Homo sapiens: one gene and its partners. The protein of the gene in region 1 binds, or shares a complex with, the protein of each later gene. Each region holds a gene or a part of one and is shown in the gene's direction. Other genes may lie near its edges.

Region 1 (7,025 bases):
AAAGGGAATAGAAGGTTCTGCTAAATTGAAGGACAGGGTACAAAGAAAGCCTTGATGTAAAGGATGAATAACATTTAGCTAGGCAAAAATTGGGATTGTCTGGTCTCGGTCAGTGGGGTATATTTTGCAAAGGTCTTGTCCCAGTAGGGAGTTTGTCAATTTCGAGCAACAGCAAAAAGGCCTCTGGGTTGTAGGTGGGTGTGTGTTCACATATGGGTATGTGTGTTCGCTTGTGTGCATGCATGTGAGGAGGCAGGGTGGGGAGTGGCTCTGGAGGAGGAGAAGGGCACAGATTCTCAGTCCTGTAGCACTCTTGTTCAGAGCATCAAGTAGACCTGAGAATTGTATGTTGATCATTGGTCCGCCAAGCAGTTCGTATGGCCTTGTTTCCCAGAACTCCATCATCAAGTGGATGTGGTGACCATATACTTTATCATCAAAACCAGGATACTCTTTTTTTTTTTTTTTTTTTTTTTAAACTTCTTTTTCTATGTTGCCCAAGCTGGTCTTGAATTCCCAGGCTCAATGGATCCTCCCGCCTCGGCCTCCCAAAGTGCTGGGATTACAGGCGTGAACCAACATGCCCGGCAAACCAGGATACTCTTGAGAGTGAAAGGGGACACTATTAATTATGTTGGGACAACGGGTATAAAACAGTACTTATAGACCAGTTCTCAGCCACTCCAGGGAGCCCCAAAGTTGCCTAGAAACCATGCTCTGAAATGACAGGGTTAGTCACGTGCTCCTGCTTTCTCACCTTTTCCTCTTCCTTCATCCATGAATAACTCTGAAAGAGGGGCACCAGGAGAAACTGCTCCAAGTCTATACAACAGAATCTTAGCCCCCATGGCCCGCCCAGCTGCAGCCTCCTGTTTTTCAGACTGCCATCTGATCTCTGACTATTAATGTGTTTTCAGAATTAAAGTCTAAAAAACGTATAGAAAAGAAAGTAAGGCCTTAAAAGTTTAGCACGTGAACTTTTCCCACTAGAAGCTTTTCCTACACTGCTTCTTATGGATTACATGGCCTAATTATATGTTCCCGGAGGGCCACTGGGCAGAATGGGTGTGGTCTAACTTCTTTCAGAGTAAACATGTTTTGTGGATTGGCCCCTATGGTGGATAATGGTGAATAATGCATGGAGTAAATACCTACAGGAAGCCTTCCCATAGGTGTAAAACCTTTATTTCAGGAAATAAAAGGAAGATATATTGATTTTTTAATTAGAATCAACTGTTTGGCTGAATCTGCATAATGAGGATTAATGGAGCTTTATTTCCTGCTCTCTCTGCCCAAGTCACTCTACAGTAGGGCCCTCAGAGAGCCCTAGTAACTTCTTCAATTTACTGACAGATGGATCACTTTGCAGTAAAATAATATTTAATGGTCGGTAACTGCGAGAATGTGGGATCTCATTGTCCTCCTCAGCCTTTCTTCAACAACCCCCCAAGTCCTCAATAAAATGGTTTGACCCTGTCCCCCATAATAATTTTTAATGTTCATGTTCAGCCAAATACTCAGGACACTAAGGAGTTGCACTATTTCTTTTCAAACTGCATTCAAGCTCTTTCTTTTGTTTTAAAAGCCAGGAAATGTGAAGAATTCACCTGGAACTAAGTAGAAAACTCCATGCTCTGCCATCTTAATCAGGTAAAAAACAAGAAATTTCTGTGATTATTTTCAGCATTGTAGTGCCAGCTGAAATGACTTGTTTTTAATTAATTTAATTTAATTAATTATAACAGTTTCAATTTGATGTGAAAATATTTTATTCCATCTTTTAGTTTCTGGGCTTAAATGCTGTGACTTACTTATTTGTGTTTGTTCCACTAATGTTACCTGGGTTTTTTAGACAAGCTAGAACCAGACAGTTGGGATTTGTCTACAAATGTATTTCAAACAATTGAAAAGTGTCATTATTCCTTAGGTTTTTTTCAAACAACACTTTATTATAGTAAGTACACTTGTATTTATCTAATACTCAGTGAACACTGGAATGCATGACTGTTACAGAGAGGCTCAAAACACTAGTTATATTGTTTGTGTATATATGAAAAATTGTATAATAGCACTTGTGATTTCCTGGTAATTAGAAGACTGTAATTGAATTTGGAAGCAACCTAGATATTCAACTACAGGAAAATGGCTTAATTATGGTATATCTATAAAGAAGAATATTATTATTCTGTTTCTACAGTATTTAATTGCATGGGAACGTGTGCACAATTATTGTTAAATGAAAAAAAGGTAGTGTGATATGTTTATAGAGGGGATGAAGCCAGGAGATACGACAGAAAGTGTGTATCTTTCAGTGGCATGATGATTTTTATATTTTTTTCTTCTTTATAACTTTCTGTATTTAAAAAATTTTCTGCAATGAGTATGCATTTTATAATCAGAAAATTTTTTGAAAATTGGTGTTACATTTATTGTAAATCATGGCCCTTACTTAAAATTTATGAAAACCCTGAGTTTGAAGGGTCTTTTTTCCTCAAGCTTTCTTTATATTTTTGGAGACCCAAAGAGTCACATAAACTGAGAATTTGAGAGTGGTTATCTGGCCCAACCCCCAGCCTCAAGCAGACTCCCCTGAAACCCTGTATGTTCCTTCTTTTACACCAGCACTGATGGGAAACTCACCCTATGGGGCAGCCATCCTGGGACAATTCTGAGTTTTTGGAAGCTGTTTCCTCTGCTAAGCAAAAATATGTCTCCTTAGTGGTCACAGAAAACAAATCCAGTTCCTCTTTCACAGCATAGCTGTTCATACAGTAACCCAACATCAGTATGTTCTCAGATACAAACTATTACCCGGGGAGCTTGGTAAAAGGCAAAGGGCACCCCAGAATCAGTATCTCTGGTGAATGGGGCCAGATATGCATGGGATGTGCCATTAGAAGGATGACTGGAGGGTGAGCAGCCACAGAGTGACACATGTCCTCTAGAGACTTGACTTTTAATATGGTTATATTTCTCTCTTTTTTTAAATCCCTGTCAGCCAGAATGGATATATTTCTGTACAGGGACAATGAAAAAGACATAGAATAAAGGGAAATTAGGTAAATATCCATTTCAATTTTCAAAGATACTCTGCACCAGAGTTCAGCTTGCTGAAATACACAACCTTGACTTCATTCTTTATTGTTTTTAGATCTTTATTGGAGGAGGTGTAGCTTTTAATTATAAAAGTGATTCGTGTTGGTTGTAAAAAATGTTTTTAGCTAACTGTTTTAAAAGCTTGTCTTGGCCGGGTGTGGTGGCTCACGCCTGTAATCCCAGCACTTTGGGAGGCCAAGGTGGGCAGATCACGAGGTCGAGAGATCGAGACCACCCTGGCCAACATGGTGAAAGCCCGTCTCTACTAAAAATACAAAAAAAAAAAGCCAGGCATGGTGGTAGTTGCCTGTAATCCCAGCTACTTGGGAGGCTGAGGCAGGAGAATCGCTTGAACCCAGGAGGCGGAGGTTGCAGTGAGCCGAGATCGTGCCATTGCACTCTAGCCTGGGCAAAAAGAGTGAAACTCTGTCTCAAAAACAAAACAAAAAAGCTTGTCTTATCCTTTATTCTTTTCTTTTTCTTTCTTTCTTTTTTTTTTTTTTTTTTTTGAGATAGAGTTTCACTCTTGTTGCCCAGGCTGGAGTGCAGTGGAGCAATCTTGCTCACTGCAGCCTCTGAGGCCTCCCGGGTTCAAGTCATTCTCCTGCCTCAGCCTCCCAAGTAGCTGGGATTACAGGCATGCACCACCATGCCCAGCTAATTTTGTATTTTTTAGTAGAGACAGGGTTTTAGCATATTGGTCAGGCTGGTCTCGAACTCCTGACCTCAGGTGATCCACCTGCCTCAGCCTCCCAAAGTACTGGGATTACAGGTGTGAGCCACCACATCTGGCCCCTTTATTCTTTTTTCCAGAGGTAATTTTTGTTAATAGTTTGGTATATCATTCCAGACTTTTAAATATAGATAGATAGATAGATAGATAGATAGATAGATAGATAGATAGATAGGCCGGGTGCAGTGGCTCACACCTGTACTCCTAGCACTTTGGGAGGCTGAGGTAGGTGGATTATATGAGTCTGGCAGTTCGAGAACAGCCTGGGCAATATGGCGAAACCCTGTCTCTACAAAAAATTAAAAAAATTAGCTGAGTGTGATGACGAACACCTGTAGTCCCAGTTACTTGGAGGCTGAGGTGGGAGGATCTCCTGAGCCTGGGAGAAAGAGGTTGCAGTGAGCCATGATCACTCCACTGCACTCCAACCTGGGCAACAGAGTGATACCCTGTCTCAAAAACAAATATATATATTTATTTATATTTAAAATTTATTTATAAATTAAATAAATTTATTTATACATTTATAATATATTCATGCATACATGCATGTTTTTGGTTTTTTGACAAAATGGGATCATATTCCACATATTGTTTTACAAGTTCACAGAAAACTTTCTTTTTACTGTTATTTATCTGGGGGGATGGGATCTTGCTGTGTTACCCAGGCTGGACTTCAACTCCTGGGTTTAGGTGATCCTCCCACTTCACCCTTCTGAGTAGCTGCACAGAAAACTTACTGAAGGCATATAATTGTAATTATATTATCATACATAAAGAAATTAGGCTTTCTTTGCTGCGTCTACTGCGAGAATGAAGACTATTCTCAGCAATCAGACTGTCGACATTCCAGAAAATGTCGACATTACTCTGAAGGGACGCACAGTTATCGTGAAGGGCCCCAGAGGAACCCTGCGGAGGGACTTCAATCACATCAATGTAGAACTCAGCCTTCTTGGAAAGAAAAAAAAGAGGCTCCGGGTTGACAAATGGTGGGGTAACAGAAAGGAACTGGCTACCGTTCGGACTATTTGTAGTCATGTACAGAACATGATCAAGGGTGTTACACTGGGCTTCCGTTACAAGATGAGGTCTGTGTATGCTCACTTCCCCATCAACGTTGTTATCCAGGAGAATGGGTCTCTTGTTGAAATCCGAAATTTTTTGGGTGAAAAATACATCCGCAGGGTTCGGATGAGACCAGGTGTTGCTTGTTCAGTATCTCAAGCCCAGAAAGATGAATTAATCCTTGAAGGAAATGACATTGAGCTTGTTTCAAATTCAGCGGCTTTGATTCAGCAAGCCACAACAGTTAAAAACAAGGATATCAGGAAATTTTTGGATGGTATCTATGTCTCTGAAAAAGGAACTGTTCAGCAGGCTGATGAATAAGATCTAAGAGTTACCTGGCTACAGAAAGAAGATGCCAGATGACACTTAAGACCTACTTGTGATATTTAAATGATGCAATAAAAGACCTATTGATTTGGGGAAAAAAAAAAAAAAAAGAAATTAGGCTGGGGCTGGGCGTGGTGGCTCACGCCTGTGGTCCCAGCACTTTGGGAAGCTGAGGTGGGCGGATCATGAGGTTAGGAGTTTGAGACTAGCCTGGCCAATATGGTGAAACCCTGTCTCTACTAAAAATACAAAAATTAGCCAGACATGGTGGCGTGCGCCTGTAGTCCCAGCTACTCGGGAGGCCGAGGCAGGGGAATCGCTTGAACCCGAAAGGCGGAGGTTGCAGTGAGCCGAGATCACGCCACTGCACTCCAGCCTGGGTGACAGAGTGAGACTCTGTCTCAAAAAAAAAAGAAAAAAGAAAAAAAGGAAATTAAGGCCGGGCATGGTGGCTCATGCCTGTAGTTCAAACTACTCAGGAGGCTGAGGCAGGAGAATTGCTTGAACCCGGGAGGTAGAGGTTGCAGTGAGCCAAGATCGTGCCACTGCACACTCCCAGCCTGGGCAACAGAGAGAGACTCCGTCTCAAAGAAAGAAAGAAATTGCACTAATTCCTTAACATCATCTAATATCCAGTTCAATGTACACATTTTCCTGGTTGTTTCATGAATAACTTTTTACAGTTGGTTCGTTTGAACCAGGATCCAAACAAGATCTGCCTGTTGTGTTTGACTGATAGGTCTCTTAGAACTGTAATAGTTTCCGCTCCCTCATTGTCCCTTGCTATTTATCTGTTGAAAAACCTGGCTTATTTGTCCTTTAGAATTCCTGTTTTCTACAAGGATTGAGCTGGGAGGGGAAAAAAAGAATTTCTCATGTTCTGGCTGTGGCCGAATGTATCCATTTAGTATCATTCTGTTTATCTCTTGGTTTCTTTCTTCTCTATATTTCCCATAAACTTATAGTTGGATCCGAAGGCTTAATTAGACTTAGGTTCATTTTTTTTTTTTGCCATAGACAGTACTATATTAATCTATGCTGATGAATGAATGAACTTGTTTTACATAACATATTGTGTAAGTATTTCCCTGTCAGTACTTAATAGAGCTACGCATTCCTTCTCTAGTTGCTTAATGATTTCCTAGTATGGACTACCATGATCTACTTAATCCTTACCAACATAGGTTGTTTCCAGTTTTTAGTTTTTAACAATGCAATAAATCTATCAAATTCCTGGGGAAGACAAAAGCAGATTAATAAACTGAGATAGAAAAAATAAGCTAGTAGTTTACATGTTTAAGAATTTTTGGTTGTATATTAAAAGATCAAGTGAATAGTCACTGGCCTCTAAAATATTTAGAAATCTCCAATTGTGCCGGGCACGGTGGCTCATACCTGTAATCCCAGCACTTTGGGAGGCTGAGGCGGGTGAATCACCTCAGGTCAGGAGTTCGAGACCAGCCTGCCCAACATGGTGAAACCACATCTCTACTAAAAATACAAAAAATTAGCCGGGCGTGGTGGCGCCTGCCTGTAATCCCAGCTACTCAGGAGGCTGAGGCAGGAGAATTGCTTGAACCCGGGAGATGGAGGTTGCGGTGAACCGAGAGGACGCCACTGTACTCCAGCCTGGGCAACAAGAGTGAAACTCCGTCTCAAAAAAAAAAAAAAATCTCTAATTGCTGAGTATATTCATTACAAATTATGAAAAAAAGCCAGGCGTGGTGGCTCACGGCTGTAATCCCAGCACTTTGGGAAGCTGAGGCAAGCAGATCACTTTAGGTCAGGAGTTCGAGAC
Region 2 (7,025 bases), on another chromosome or scaffold:
TAGGCTCCCTGACACCATACTCTTCTGGCCTTTCTCTTACCTTGCTGGCCACTCCTTAACCTCCTTTTCTGCTCAGCCTCTCAAATGGTGGCATACCTGGCATTAGTTCTGAAACGTTTTCTCCATCTGAACTGTCTCTAAGTGTTCTTGTTGAGTCCCGTGACTTGGAAGTTTAAATACCATCTATACCTGATAAATGTCTATCTCCAGCTCTGACCTCTGCCTTGGCTTCAGGTTCCTATCCAGCAGCCTACCTGGTATCTCCAGCTTGATTTTCAGTAGTCATTTCATGCTTATCATGCTCCAAACAGATTTATTTATTCTCTCCAACCTGTCTTCCAGCCCCTCAACTTGTTTCTCTCTAAATAAACTGAGTTGAACAATCTGCTCAGCTATTCCAGCCCAAATCATGCTTTGTTGTTCCTCCATCAACTCATATTCAGTTGCCCCACAGATCCTACCAGTTTTGCATCCAACATAAATCCCAAATCTGTCCACTCCATTACTACCACCTTAGCCCAAGCTGTCATCTTAACAGCTTCCACTATTTTTTCTTTTTCTTTCTTTTTTTTTTTTTTTTTTTGAGACAGAGTCTGTCTTTGTGGCCCAGGGTAGAGTGCAGTAGTGCAATCTTGGCTCATTGCAACCTCTGCCTCCCAGGTTCAAGTGATTCTTGTGCCTCTCAGCCTCCTGAGTAGCTAGACTTACAGGTGCATGCCACCACATGTGGCTAATTTTTGTATTTTTAGTAGAGACGGGGTTTTGCCATGTTGGCCAGGCTGGTCTCGAACTCCTGACCTCAAGTGATCCACCTGCCTTGGCCTCCCACGGCGCCAGAATTACAGGCATGAGGTACCATGCCCGGCCTTCCCCAAGGAATTTAAACACCAAAGTGCTGGGATTACAGGTGTGAGCCACCATGCCCAGCCAATTTGCCCTTTCTTCATACCCTTCTTTCTGTGTCTATTTACGCAGGCAAATAAAACATAGTCGAATCAGACACTACACTGCTGGAAATCCTCCATGGACTACCCATTTCATTTAATATAATTCCAAATTCTTAACCAGTACCCAAAAGGCTTCTTGATCACTGCATGCCATGAGCCATTTCACTGCTCCAGGCACCCTGGTATTTTTTGTCTGTACCTTGACTATATCTTTTGTCTTGGGACCTTTATGTTTTCTCTGCCTAGTACATTGTTCTATCCTCTCTGTTTAAACCTTGAGCTCTAAGCTTAAGTTTTAAGCCTAGATGTCACTTTGTTAGCAAGACTGAGATTTCCTATCCCTTCAGTCCAAAGTAGAGTCTCTGTATTACTTTCTGTTATGTTGCCCTGTTTATTTTAAATGTAAGGTGGGGGAAAAGGAGGTTGAAGGGGTGTTGATGCTTCACAACAGGTCCTTGCCTGCTCAGTCATATGTAGAAATATGTATCACAATCTCAGATGTCTTTTTTGTTTACTGTCTGCTGCCTCCATTGAGATATACACTGTGAGAGCAAGAAGTTCGTCTGCCCTAAGCACCATTGGATCCGTACAGATAGTAGGCACTGCCTGGCACACAGGGCTAGTAGCACTTCATAAATACTTATGCACTGACTGAATGGATTCATTGATTTATTATATTGTTTCTGAGAAAAAATAAGTTCTGGATTTCAGGTAATCAGTGTTAAGTAATTTGTAAAGTGACCTATGGCTATTTGTTAGGCAAGGTATATTTTTTGGTTTTTTTTGGCCCATGTTGAATTTAAATTCATTTAAAAATAAGCAGTTTTCTTTGTTTAGAAGTCTATGTCAAGTCTATGTCAATAACTACCAGATACTTACTAATTTTCTTTTCTTTTTTCTTTTTGAGATGGAGTCTTGCTCTGTCGCCCAGGCTGGAGTGCAGCAGCGCAATCTTGGCTCACGGCAAGCTCTGCCTCCTCGGTTCACGCCATTCTCCTGCCTCAGCCTCCCGAGTAGCTGGGACTACAGGCACCCGCCACCACACCCGGCTAATTTTTTTTTTGTATTTTTAGTAGAGATGGGGTTTCACCATTTTAGTCAGGATAGTCTCAATCTCCTGACCTCATGAGCCACCTGCCTCAGCCTCCCAAAGTGCTGGGATTACAGGTGTGAGCCACCACGCCCGGCCAACTAATTTTCTTAATGATTCTTCAAAGTAGGCATTATTACTCACAAATGAGAAAGTGGAGATTTGAGAAGATAAATCATTTCCCCAAGGTCACACAGATGGTTGTAGTAAAGCTACGCTTGATTCCAAGTATATAGTTACTTTTTTTCATATCCTGGATTTAGTTATTTCTCAGAGGAGCATGTGATTCAGGAAATGGCAGTGTTTTATATGAGAGGCAGCCTGGTGATGTGGAAAAACCACAAGTTTGGGGGTGAGAGAGACCTTTGTTTGAAATCTGGTTTTTGCCACAGCTGTGTGATCTTGTTTGAATCACCTTCCAGGGTTTAGTTTTCCGTTTCACATGAGAAGTAGAAGTGTACACATGCCTGGCACATTAGAGGCGTTCAGGATATGGAAGCTGCTGTTGTCATGGTTGATAGTGGTCTTTCTGTTTTCCTAAAAGTATATGTGGAGAATTGAAAACTAATAACTACTATGTTTGGTTTCACAGATAGAAGAAGTCAGAGATGCCATGGAAAATGAAATGAGAACCCAGCTTCGCCGACAGGCAGCTGCCCACACTGATCACTTGCGAGATGTCCTTAGGGTACAAGAACAGGAATTGAAGTCTGAATTTGAGCAGGTGAGGACCTGGACTCCCTTCAGCCACACCCCTCTTCCTGACAGGATTAAGAGACTCTCCTTTCCTTTTAATGTACTCTGAGGATGTCGAAGATTTGGAAATCTCCTTGTATGTCTACAAAACTGCTTCTTTTTACATAATGGTGTACCTGTGTGTTCATGATCAGATGTGTTTTTAAAATATATATTCTAGTCATTTGGAATCTTCAGAGCTTTAAGGAGAGTTGGTAAAGGGGATTTCAGGAATGCAGACAGTAATATTTGACATGTGTATCTTCCTCCTATAGATGGCATGGTACTGCTTAGATTTTTATAACTGAGGTAATTTCCCAGAGAAGTTTTGAAATCCCAGTAAATTATCAGGATGCCTGTAATCATAGTTTCTATTCAAGAAATCATTTACAGTAATATTAACTTGTTACTTTGTCTTGCAAGAAGATATTGAGGTTTTCTAAGTAAAATCTTCCAGAGAATCGCGATGTATGTCAGTATGAAAAGGTATTTTAAATTCTATTTGGATATTTTTCTGAGAAAAATTAATGTATAAGCTCTTAAATACAAGATATTAGAATATAATTTAATCTAATTATTATGTTTAGGTTTGCAGTACAGATAATTTACTTTCTAAAGCTGACAATTTGTGGCTGAGCACAGTGGCTAACACCTATAATCCCAGCAATTTGGGAGGCTGAGGCGGGTGGATCGCTTGAGGACAAGAGTTCAAGACCAGCCTGCCCAACATGGCGAAACCCTGTCTCTATTAAAAATACAAAAATTACCTGGGCATGGTGGTGCATGCATGTAATCCCAGCCACTCCGGAGGCTGAGGCATGAGAATCGTTTGAATCTGGGAGGTGGAGGTTGCAGTGAGCTGAGGTTGTGCCACTGCACTCCAGCCTGGATGACAGAGCAAGATTCTGTCTCAAAAATAAAATACAGTTGGCAGTTTGTTTCTGACTTTAACAGCCTTCTCTCTTCTCTTGGTATGCCTCCTCTAATATTAGGTTCCATCAGTAAACCTGTAAAGAATTATATACATCGGCCGGGCACGGTGGCTCACGCCTGTAATCCCAGCACTTTGGGAGGCCGAGGTGGGCGGATCACGAGGTTAAGAGATCGAGACCATCCTGGCCAACATGGTGAAACCCATCTCTACTAAAAATACAATAATTGGCATGGTGATGCATGCCTGTAATCCCAGCTACTTGGGAGGCTGAGGCAGGAGAATCACTTGAATCTGGGAGGCGGAGGTTGCAGTGAGCCAAGATTGTGCCACTGCACTCCAACCTGGCAATAAAGCAAGATTCCATCTCAAAAAAAAAAAAAATATATTATATACATCAAATATGAGTCAGGACATTTTTGAAACTTTACACAAAATGTAGGAATTTCGTGACAACTCTAAGGCCCTCTTTGCTTCAGCAAGTAGTTGCTGGAAGATTACACAGTTACATGACATGCATTGAGTATCACTTTTTTCTGGAACTATTTCTGTTTTATTTCAGAACCTGTCTGAGAAACTCTCTGAACAAGAATTACAATTTCGTCGTCTCAGTCAAGAGCAAGTTGACAACTTTACTCTGGATATAAATACTGCCTATGCCAGACTCAGAGGAATCGAACAGGCTGTTCAGAGTAAGCATAAGCTATGTTTATCTTACAGATAATTTTCCTCAGCATAATTTATCAAAATAATTTTATAGGGAAAATGGGGTACATGTACTGACATCAGGACATAAAAATACTAATCACTCTACTTAATTGCAGTTTTTGCCATTAAAAGTAATGGCAAAATCTATATAACTAGAAATTTATACCTTGTATGACAAACACAAAATCACCATTTACAAGGCTATTTACCCAGTATCCTTTGGCTATGTCGCATGTGCCTGGGTGGTAAGGGCTAGGGGTCAGTGTGGTCCCATGCTTGCCTTCCACAGACTTGGTGGGTTATCTGGAGGTGGTGATTTGCCGAGTCCAACTACCAAATGGACAGTATTTATGCTGAGGCCTCCATGTGCCACATTGAAAGAGAAATGTCATGACAATGAGGGTATTAATAAAATGGGTTTTTTTAGGATGTTATGGAATCTTTTTTTGTCACATAACAATAAAAATAAATTCAATACTCATGGAATTTCAAGATCCAGTAGTCTGTTAAGTTCGTTTGAAGTCTCCCATTTCTTTTTTTTTTTTTTTTTTTTTTTTGAGACAGAGTCTTGCTCTGTCGCCCAGGGTAGAGTGCAGTGGTGTGATATCGACTCACTGCAGCCTCCGCCTCCTGGGTTCAAGCGATTCTCCTGCCTCAGACTCCTGAGTAGCTGGGAATACAGGTGCGTGCCACCACGCCTGGCTAGGTTTTGTATTTTTAGTAGACACAGGGTTTCACCATGTTGGCCAGGCTAGTCCTGAACTCCTGACCACAAGTGATCCACCCACCTCGGCCTCCCAAATTGCTGGGATTACAGGCATGAGCCATTGTGCCTGGCCCTGAAGTCTCCCATTTCTTTGCAGAAAATTTCTCATGGCCTTAGCGTTAAGTCTTAGCCTAATTTAAATAATATGTTTCTTTCTCAACTAGTAAAGGTAAAAATATGTGGATTAGATATCATGCAGATGTGAATGACTTCTGACTTTGATATGAAGAGGCCAGCTAGGAAAATACACCAGAAATAAGTGGTGGGGGTGGGGTTGTAAGAAAGTCTCTCTGGCCTCATCTTGCACATGTGTAGATGTAGCTTGTTGAATGTGCATCAGTTCTGTGGATGTATGTTGTCAGATGGAGAGAAAAATGTTTGGCTTTGCCTTTTTTTCTTTGTAGGCCATGCAGTTGCTGAAGAGGAAGCCAGAAAAGCCCACCAACTCTGGCTTTCAGTGGAGGCATTAAAGTACAGCATGAAGACCTCATCTGCAGAAACACCTACTATCCCGCTGGGTAGTGCAGTTGAGGCCATCAAAGCCAACTGTTCTGATAATGAATTCACCCAAGCTTTAACCGCAGCTATCCCTCCAGAGTCCCTGACCCGTGGGGTGTACAGTGAAGAGACCCTTAGAGCCCGTTTCTATGCTGTTCAAAAACTGGCCCGAAGGGTAGCAATGATTGATGAAACCAGAAATAGCTTGTACCAGTACTTCCTCTCCTACCTACAGTCCCTGCTCCTATTCCCACCTCAGCAACTGAAGCCGCCCCCAGAGCTCTGCCCTGAGGATATAAACACATTTAAATTACTGTCATATGCTTCCTATTGCATTGAGCATGGTGATCTGGAGCTAGCAGCAAAGTTTGTCAATCAGCTGAAGGGGGAATCCAGACGAGTGGCACAGGACTGGCTGAAGGAAGCCCGAATGACCCTAGAAACGAAACAGATAGTGGAAATCCTGACAGCATATGCCAGCGCCGTAGGAATAGGAACCACTCAGGTGCAGCCAGAGTGAGGTTTAGGAAGATTTTCATAAAGTCATATTTCATGTCAAAGGAAATCAGCAGTGATAGATGAAGGGTTCGCAGCGAGAGTCCCGGACTTGTCTAGAAATGAGCAGGTTTACAAGTACTGTTCTAAATGTTAACACCTGTTGCATTTATATTCTTTCCATTTGCTATCATGTCAGTGAACGCCAGGAGTGCTTTCTTTGCAACTTGTGTAACATTTTCTGTTTTTTCAGGTTTTACTGATGAGGCTTGTGAGGCCAATCAAAATAATGTTTGTGATCTCTACTACTGTTGATTTTGCCCTCGGAGCAAACTGAATAAAGCAACAAGATGAAAACTGAGTATCTTATCCCTTTTCAAAAAGTACAGTTCTGGCCAGGTGCAGTAGCTCACGCCTGTAATCCCAGCACTTTGGGAGGCTGAGGCGGGTGGATCACCTGAGGTTGGGAGTTCGAGACCAGCCTGACCAACATGGAGAAACCCATCTCTACTAAAAATACAAAATTAAGCTGGGCGTGGTGGCGAATGCCTGTAATCCCAGCTACTCGGGAGGCTGAGGCAGGAGAATCGCTTGAACCTGGGAGGTGGAGGTTGCAGTGAGTCAGGATCGCACCATCGCACTCCAGCCTGGGCAACAAGAGCAAAACTCCGTCTCAAAAAAAAAAAATTCTAGTTTGTTGTATGTACAGAAAATATCCTTGAGAAACAACAACAGCAGAAGTAGGAACTTCTAGCTCACAGTTTCCAGGCTGTGAATTGCGTCACCAGAAGTCCACAGCCTGCTTTTTGCCTTTGAAGGTTTTGGTGAATTGATTCCTGCTGCTCAGACTCAAAA
Region 3 (7,483 bases), on another chromosome or scaffold:
TCAAGCGATTCTTCTGCTCAGCCTTCCAAGTAATTGGGATTACAGGCATGTGCCACCATGCCCGGCTAATTATTTTTTGTATTTTTAGTAGAGATGGGGTTTCACCATGTTGGTCAGGCTGATCTCAAACCCCTGACCTCAAATGATCTGCCTGCCTCAGTCTCTCAAAGTGCTGGGATTACAGGCGTGAGCCACTGTGCCTGGCCAGAACTTGTTCATCTTATAACTAAAGTTTGTACCCTTTGACCATTTCCCCATGCCCCCACTTCCTAATCCCTGGTAACCAATGTTCTATTCTGCTTCTATGAGTTCAACTTTTTTAGATTCCACATATAAGTGAGATCATACAGTATTTGTCTTTCTGTGCCTGGCTTATTTCACTTAGCAAAATGTCCTCCAGGTTCGTCCATGTTGTCACAAATGGCAGGATTTCCTTTTTTATGGCTGGATAAAACACGCGTGTGTGTGTGTGTGTGTATGTATATATATGTGTGTGTAAAACATTTTATCTGCTCATCTGTTGATGGACACAGGTTGTTTCCATATTTTGGGTATTTTGAATAATACTACAATGGACATGGGGGAGCAGATATATTTTCAAGATTTCATTTCCTTTAGATATATACTGTTAAAGGAAAAACTTGAGACTGATTAAAGAGTTTGAGAAAAGGACAAGTTACAAATCAGGGAGCCCCCCAAATCAGAATAGCTTCAAAGAGACTTCAGTGCTGCCAGTGGGGTTGGAGAGGATTTAGGGACAGGAAAAGGAAAATGACATAAATAAAATGGAAGTGAAATACAGAAATAGCCAGATTGGTTACAGCTGGGTTACAGACTTATTTGAACACCGAACAGTTGGCCACCTGTGAGTAGTATGTCTTCTGATTGGCTGAGACTTGGCTACTTGTTATAAGAGTAGGTTACAGTCTGTTTACACATCCAGTTAGATTACAGTTCACTATGTATGGATCAACCTTTAGGCTGAACTTACAAGGAAGCAGCTTTAGGCTAAAGTTAACTATACAGAAATAGGATTATTAGATTGTATTGACTTTTGGGGGAGTTGCCATACTCTCTCCCATAATGGCTCTACAAATTTATATTCCCACCAGCAGTGTGCAGGGTTCTCTTTTCTCTACATCCTCACCAACACTTCTCTTGTCTTTATTACAATACTGATTCTCACAGGTGTAAGGTGATATCTCACCATGGTTTTAATTTGCATTTCTCTGATGATTAGTGGTGTTGAGCGCTCTTCATATGCCTGTTAGCTATTCACATGTCTTCTTCAGAAAAATGTCTATTCAAGTCCTTTGCCCATTTTTAAATTGGGTATTTATTTTTGCTATTGAGTTGTGTGAGTTCCTTATAGAGTATATTTGGATATTAAGCACTTATCAGATATATGGTGCCCAAATATTTTCTCCCAGTCTGTAGGTTGCCTTTTCAGTTTGCTGCTTGTTTCCTCTTATGTGGAGAAGCTTTTTTAGTTTGATGTCATACCATTCGTTTATTTTTACTTTTGTTGTTTGTGCTTTTGGTGTTATAGCCAAAAAAATTATCATCAAGACCAATGATAAGAAGCTTTCCACCTATGTTTTCTTCTAGGAGTTTTGGGGTTTCAGATCTCACATTTAAGTCTTCAATTCATTTTGAATGGATTTTTTATGTGGTGTAATACAAGGGTCCAATTTCCTTCTTTTGAATGTGGATATCCCGTATTTCCAGCTCCAATTATTGAAGAGACTTTCCTTTCTCCATAGTGTGTATATTCTCGGCACCATTATCAAACATTAGTAGACCATATATGCATGGGCTCTCTATTTTTCTGCATTGATCTATGTATCTATTTTTATGCCAGTACCATACTCTTTTGATTACTACAGCTTTGTAATATAGTTTGAAATCAGGGAGTATGATGCCTTCAGCTTTCTGCTTCTTTCTCAAGATTGCTTTGATGATTTGGGGTCTTTTGTGGTTCCATATGAAATGTTAGAATTGTTTTTTCTATTTATGTGAAAAATGTCATTAGAATTTTGATAATGATGACATTGAATGTGTAGATTACTTTGGGTAGTAAAGCCATTTTAACAATATTAATTCTTCTGATCTATAAACACAGGCTATCTTTCTACTTATTTATGTCTCCTATAGTATCTTTCAACAGTGTCTTATAATTTTTAGTGTGCAATTTTTTGTGTGCATCTTTCTTTCACCTCCTTGGTTAAATTTATTCATATTTTATTCTTTTTGGTGTTATTGTAAGTGGGATCATTTTCTTAATTTCTTTTTGAATAGTTTGTTGTCAGAAATCAGTAATAGGAAGAACTTTGGAAAATTCACACATGTGCGGAAATTAAACAACACATTCCTGAACAGCCAATGAGCCAAAGAATAAATCAAAAGGGGAATAAACAAGTATCTTGAGACAAATGAAAATGGAAACACAAGGTACCACAACTTATAGGATGCAATAGAAACATTTTTAAGAGGGAAGTTTATAGCGAAAAATACCTACATTAAGAAAAAAGAAAGACATCAAACAACCTAATTTTATATCTCAAGGAACTAGAAGAGGAACAAACTAAGCCCCAAAGTCAGCAGACTGAAGGAAATAAAAAAGATGAGAGCAGAAATAGAAACTAGAAAAACAACAGAAAAGATCAACAGTAAAGATCAACAAAATTAACAAACCTTAGCTAGACTAACCAAGAAAAAAGGTAATTCACATAAACAAAAGTATAAATGAAAGAGGAGACATTACAACTGATATCACAGAAATACAAAAGATCATAATCAACTACTATGAACAATTATACACCAAGAAACTGGATAATTTAGGAGAAATGGACGAATTCCCAGAAACATACCATCTATCCAAACTGAGTCTTGAAGAAACAGAAAATCTGAACAGACCAATAACGAGTAAGGAGATTGAATTAGTAATCATAAACCTCCAAGGAAAAGAGACAAAGGAAAGCCCAGGACCAGGTCTGACCACATCTTTACTCAGTTTTCCCCGCGGCCCCCGGTCCCCACCCCTCTTAGCCTGTCTCCCTAACTTCCTTTCTCCTGAGGTGCTCCCCCAGGAAACTCCTTGCACCAGAATCCCCTACGCAGGCTCTGCTTATAGGGAAGAAATGGACGACAGAGGTGATGGAGTGGGGTGCGCCAATGAAGTATTTTGAATGAAACTAGCAGACACCTTTGTTCCTAAAGATTCCATCGTCACACCAGCTCTGGGATGTTTACTAGCTTCTTCACCCTGAGCTATTCTCAATCTCAGAGCCTTACTGCTCTCTCTCAATCATTCTCTCCTCCTCACCCCTTTCTTTCCAGGTTGCCAATAGGAGCTCCAAATATTTTCTGGCTATTTCATGTAGCCATCTAGTTTTCCTCAGCTCGGCTTCAGGCGCACTTTTGCAAATCAAAGCCATTCAGCAACTCAGAGGAACAAAAAGGGGCTTATTTGAAGGTAGCAGTGTCTATGACTGGCAACCGTCTGTGTGCTCCCTTACACATAGGGTCCTGTGTAAGAAGCCTACACACAATGCCTGGCACACTGCACTCCACACATGGTATGTACACTCCTTGGGCAATGCCTCCTAACGGCTTAGGACCATTCCCTGTCCTCCCGGGGCGTTTAGAATAAAACCCACACTCAGACCCTGCCTCACAAGACCCGACATGATTTGGGTCCTCACCACTCCTCTGCCCTCTTCTCACTTTCCAGCCATGGGATGACCCCTCTTTCTCTTTTCCTGCCTGAGACTCCCAGGAAACCTCTTCCCCTACCTTTTTCTACATAAATCCTACTCTCCCGCCGGCTCAGTTCAAAGCTTCTTCCTCAGAGGTTGCTCTGGCCACTGAAATTAAAAGAGGCCTCCTTCTGTTCATTTTACTAGTGGCATCGCCATGCAGTTTTCCGTGTATTACAGTCAGTTTCCTTGCGTGCGTGTTTGGCTTTTCACTTGTTTTCCCCTTGCACTGTAAACCTCTCAAGGGCAGGACACTCGCTGTCTTGAGGGGCGCTGTAATGCCAGGGCCAGGTCCCTGCTCGTCTGGCGCTCAGCCCGTGCTGCTCTACACGTGTTTGCTGAATGAATGGAGCAGTGAACCCTCAGAAATTCGCCTCCAGATGAGCGCCTTGGCCGTCTCGGCGTCTCCTGGCCTCAGAACATCACCCTTGGCTCTCCCTCAAGGGGGAGCTCCCAAAGCGAGAACGTGACCCTGTCCTGCACCCAGCCCTCCACTCCAGGGCCTCCGCCGGTACACATCTTCGGCCTCAGCCTAACGCACTCTAGCAGGCACAGACCGCCACGCCCCCACCCCTCCAGACGGAAGGACTGCAATCCCCACAAGGCACCGCGACTCAGCGCCACCCGATTGGTGAAGCCTCTGGCGTCGGCCAATAGGACGTGGCTTTGTTGGCGTGTGCCGCGGCCGCGCGAGTCCTGGAAAGCGTTGTTGGCCCGGTTGCTCTGGAGCCGGGTCTCGGGTCTGGTGGCTGCCGGCCCTGCGGCATCTCGCCATGGGGAGCACGGAGAGCAGCGAGGGCCGCAGGGTGTCCTTCGGAGTGGACGAGGAGGAGCGGGTCCGGGTGCTGCAGGGTGTCCGGGTGAGCGGCGCCGCCTGGGCCGGGGCGGGCGTGGAGGCCGCGGGCGCGGGGGGGAGGTGCGGGGCGGAGCGCAGGGCCGGGGCTCTTTCCACGCGTGAGGGGCGTGGGGCTTGGGAGACTCCGGGGGCTCAGGCCAGGAAGAGGCTGAGCCGAGACGCGAGCCCGAGGCTGGCAGCCTTGGAGCTTCGCGACATGGGCTTCAGGGAAGGAGGAGTGAAGAACTGTACAGGTGCGAGGCCCCTGGGACACGAGGGACGCCCTGGCCACGTCCTGGCTCCGGTCGGCTTAGTTTTTACGTTTCTTGAATTTGCGCCCGGCCTCCCAGCCCGTGGCCCCTCAGGTGCGCGCATCTCGTTCTGGGTACGCGGTGTCTCCCACCTGGGCTTTGCCTGGGGACTCAGCTCTTCCCCGCCGGCCTGTTCTCCACAGCACATCTGCGGGGCGCAGGAAGAACCATAGCTCAGATCTGATCCCCTTCCTTGCCTGAAACCCTCCAGTGGGTTCCTAGCGCGCTTGGATGATGCCTTCCCTGGTTCCAAAGCTGGCCGCTGCCCGTCGACCTCTGGGGACTGCATCCCTCTGGGACTGCATCTCGTGCCATTTCCCTCGCGTGGCACCCGCACCTCGTCCCCAGCCTCAGGACCGCCGTGTTTTCCTGGAGGGTGCCGCTGGCTCAGCTCAGGGTCTGTGCGCCGGCTGTTCTCTCTCCTTCAGCTCTCCTTAAATCCCGCTGTTTCTTGTAATTCTTGTTGTAATTCAGATATCACCAGAGAATCCTTCCCTGACCACCCAATCTGAAGTAACCTCCCACCCCGCGTCCAACATTTATTATTTTCATAGCACTCATCACAGTGATCGCTTCTGTTGATAATTGTTTACTTGTTTATTGCGTTTACTGCTAGAGTGTAAGCTTTTTGAGGCTAAGGTTCCTGTCTGATTGAAGACTGTCCCCAGAACCCAGAAGAATAAAAGCAGCTCTTATTGCAGTGTAGGGGCCATGCGTTGGACTAAACCCTTTATAAGTTAACTGATTTAATTTTCAACAGCCCTATTTAGCCCATTATTGTAGATTAAGGAGAAGTGAGGCACTGAGAGGTGAACGAACTGATCCAAGATCATGTAAATAGTAAGTGGGAGAGCTGGGATTGAAACAAGCCAATTCCAGGGCATGTTGCTGTGCTCGGCCTCTTCCTCCACCTGTGTCTACACCTGCAGGTGCTTTGTAAGTAACTGTGGAGAGATGAATGAACCCAGTAAAAGGGACTAGGATTAAATGAAACGCACAGAGCTGGGTGTAGATGAATTAGTTAATTAAGGAGGAATTAGGGAGGTGGCTTAGAAAGACAGACTTCAGGAGTTCTGGCAGGTGCTCATTAGCTGTGTGACCTTGGGTAAAAAACTCTTTTGAGCCTCAATGGCCACATTAAAAAAAAAATTGGGTGTGTATGTATCCTAGGTACTGCCTAGGATAAGATGATGTCTGTGAAAGTGTTAAGGAAACGCACAGAGAGAGTGCTTTGTGGAGGCCTCTCTTCTTAGCCTAGCAGAGTACTTGGCACATTTGGTGCTTGCTAGGCGTTGTATAGTTTTGTGGACCTCACTCGTGGCAAGGATTAAATGGGGGAGGAGATGGCTTGTGTTGGAAGGCCGAGAGGGAGGAACCTGAATTGGAATTTAGAAAGATAAGCTTGGCTCTGTTTGGGTGCTCTCACCCTTGTGATTTGGTCTCCTGTTTTGGGGAATGTTGGAAAGTTAAGTTGGAGTCCTCAGAGGTTCAGGGGAGTGCCTTTGGGGGTGCCTTCTTTCAAGTTGATTGGAAACCTCATGTTTTTTGAGTATTATATAAGACAGGTACATTTCATTTCTAGTTCTCTTAAATACTTCTGCAACATATAAATTCTCTGTATTTAAAGATGGAGAATTGAGCTTAAAGGAGTTAAGGAATTTGCCCAAGGTGTTAACCTGAGTAACTTCTGGGACTTTAATTAAGATCTTTTCGGTGCAAAAAGCAACTTTTTCTCACTTCTGCAATTCCCCCCCATGATGTATGCAAGGCAGCCTGAAAATTTTGTGACAATACCCATACCTGTCCTGACAGGGATGATAGTGCCCCACTTAGTTTTAAAACTGGAAGGAACTTTGGTGACTGACTGCTTTCTTTTCCAGCTGGGCAAACTAATCAGAGAGGATAAATGACTTGTCCAGAGGTGCACAGTAAGGTGCACAGCCCCACGTTATGAGAGCCACGTCCTTCCTTCTGCTTGTGTTTGAAAGAGGAAAACTGAAGAAAGGAGGTGATGGTATGAAGAAAGGATGTTTTGGTGTAGAGGCTTTTTCTGTTAGCAGAGTTACTTGAGGGTTGAGGAATTCACCTTGTCTTTAGGCAAGTGAGTGAAAAAGATTGCCAGATCAACAAAACAGTTGCCAAAGGGAACAAATCAGTTCATTTAATGAGAAGCAGATGCCAAAGAAGATCTGCCCCAGCTTCTTTAGAGCAAGTTGAATATTCTTAATGACCATTTGTATTTAATTCCTGAGGCCTGGTCTTAGAAAGTGTTCTCGTCCCTGTAAGATTAAGTGTTAGTGGCTGGTAGTGGTGGCTCATGCCTGTAATTTCAGCACTTTGGGAGGCCGAAGTGGGCAGATCACCTGAGGTCAGGAGTTAAAGACCAGTCTGGCCAACATGGTGAAACCCTGCCTCTACCAAAAATACAAAAGTTAGCTGGGCATGGTGGCACACACCTGTACACCCAGCTACTTGGGAGGCTGAGGTAGGAGAATCCTTGAACCCAGGAGGGGGAGGTTGCAGTGAGCCGAGATTATGCCAGTGTCCTCCAGCCTGGGTGACAGAGACTCCGTCTTAAA

Evidence for each region. The genes of interacting proteins can lie anywhere in the genome.
Region 2: APOO (region 1) and IMMT share a complex: the UniProt entries of both Homo sapiens proteins name them as parts of the mitochondrial contact site and cristae organizing system (MICOS) complex.
Region 3: APOO (region 1) and CHCHD6 share a complex: the UniProt entries of both Homo sapiens proteins name them as parts of the mitochondrial contact site and cristae organizing system (MICOS) complex.

The regions. Positions count from the first base shown.
Region 1 is NC_000023.11:23,834,938-23,841,962, reverse strand, and holds part of APOO (MICOS complex subunit MIC26 precursor), read left to right. Parts: intron 1-1,585; coding exon 1,586-1,621; 3' UTR 1,622-1,650; intron 1,651-7,025. UniProt on the Homo sapiens protein: Component of the MICOS complex, a large protein complex of the mitochondrial inner membrane that plays crucial roles in the maintenance of crista junctions, inner membrane architecture, and formation of contact sites to the outer membrane.
Region 2 is NC_000002.12:86,143,438-86,150,462, reverse strand, and holds the end of IMMT (MICOS complex subunit MIC60), read left to right. Parts: intron 1-2,629; coding exon 2,630-2,761; intron 2,762-4,265; coding exon 4,266-4,395; coding exon of another isoform or gene 4,396-4,427; exon of another isoform or gene 4,428-4,903; intron 4,904-4,975; coding exon of another isoform or gene 4,976-5,093; intron 5,094-5,581; coding exon 5,582-6,195; 3' UTR 6,196-6,527; downstream 6,528-7,025. UniProt on the Homo sapiens protein: Component of the MICOS complex, a large protein complex of the mitochondrial inner membrane that plays crucial roles in the maintenance of crista junctions, inner membrane architecture, and formation of contact sites to the outer membrane.
Region 3 is NC_000003.12:126,699,782-126,707,264, forward strand, and holds the start of CHCHD6 (MICOS complex subunit MIC25), read left to right. Parts: upstream 1-4,458; 5' UTR 4,459-4,531; coding exon 4,532-4,618; intron 4,619-7,483. UniProt on the Homo sapiens protein: Component of the MICOS complex, a large protein complex of the mitochondrial inner membrane that plays crucial roles in the maintenance of crista junctions, inner membrane architecture, and formation of contact sites to the outer membrane.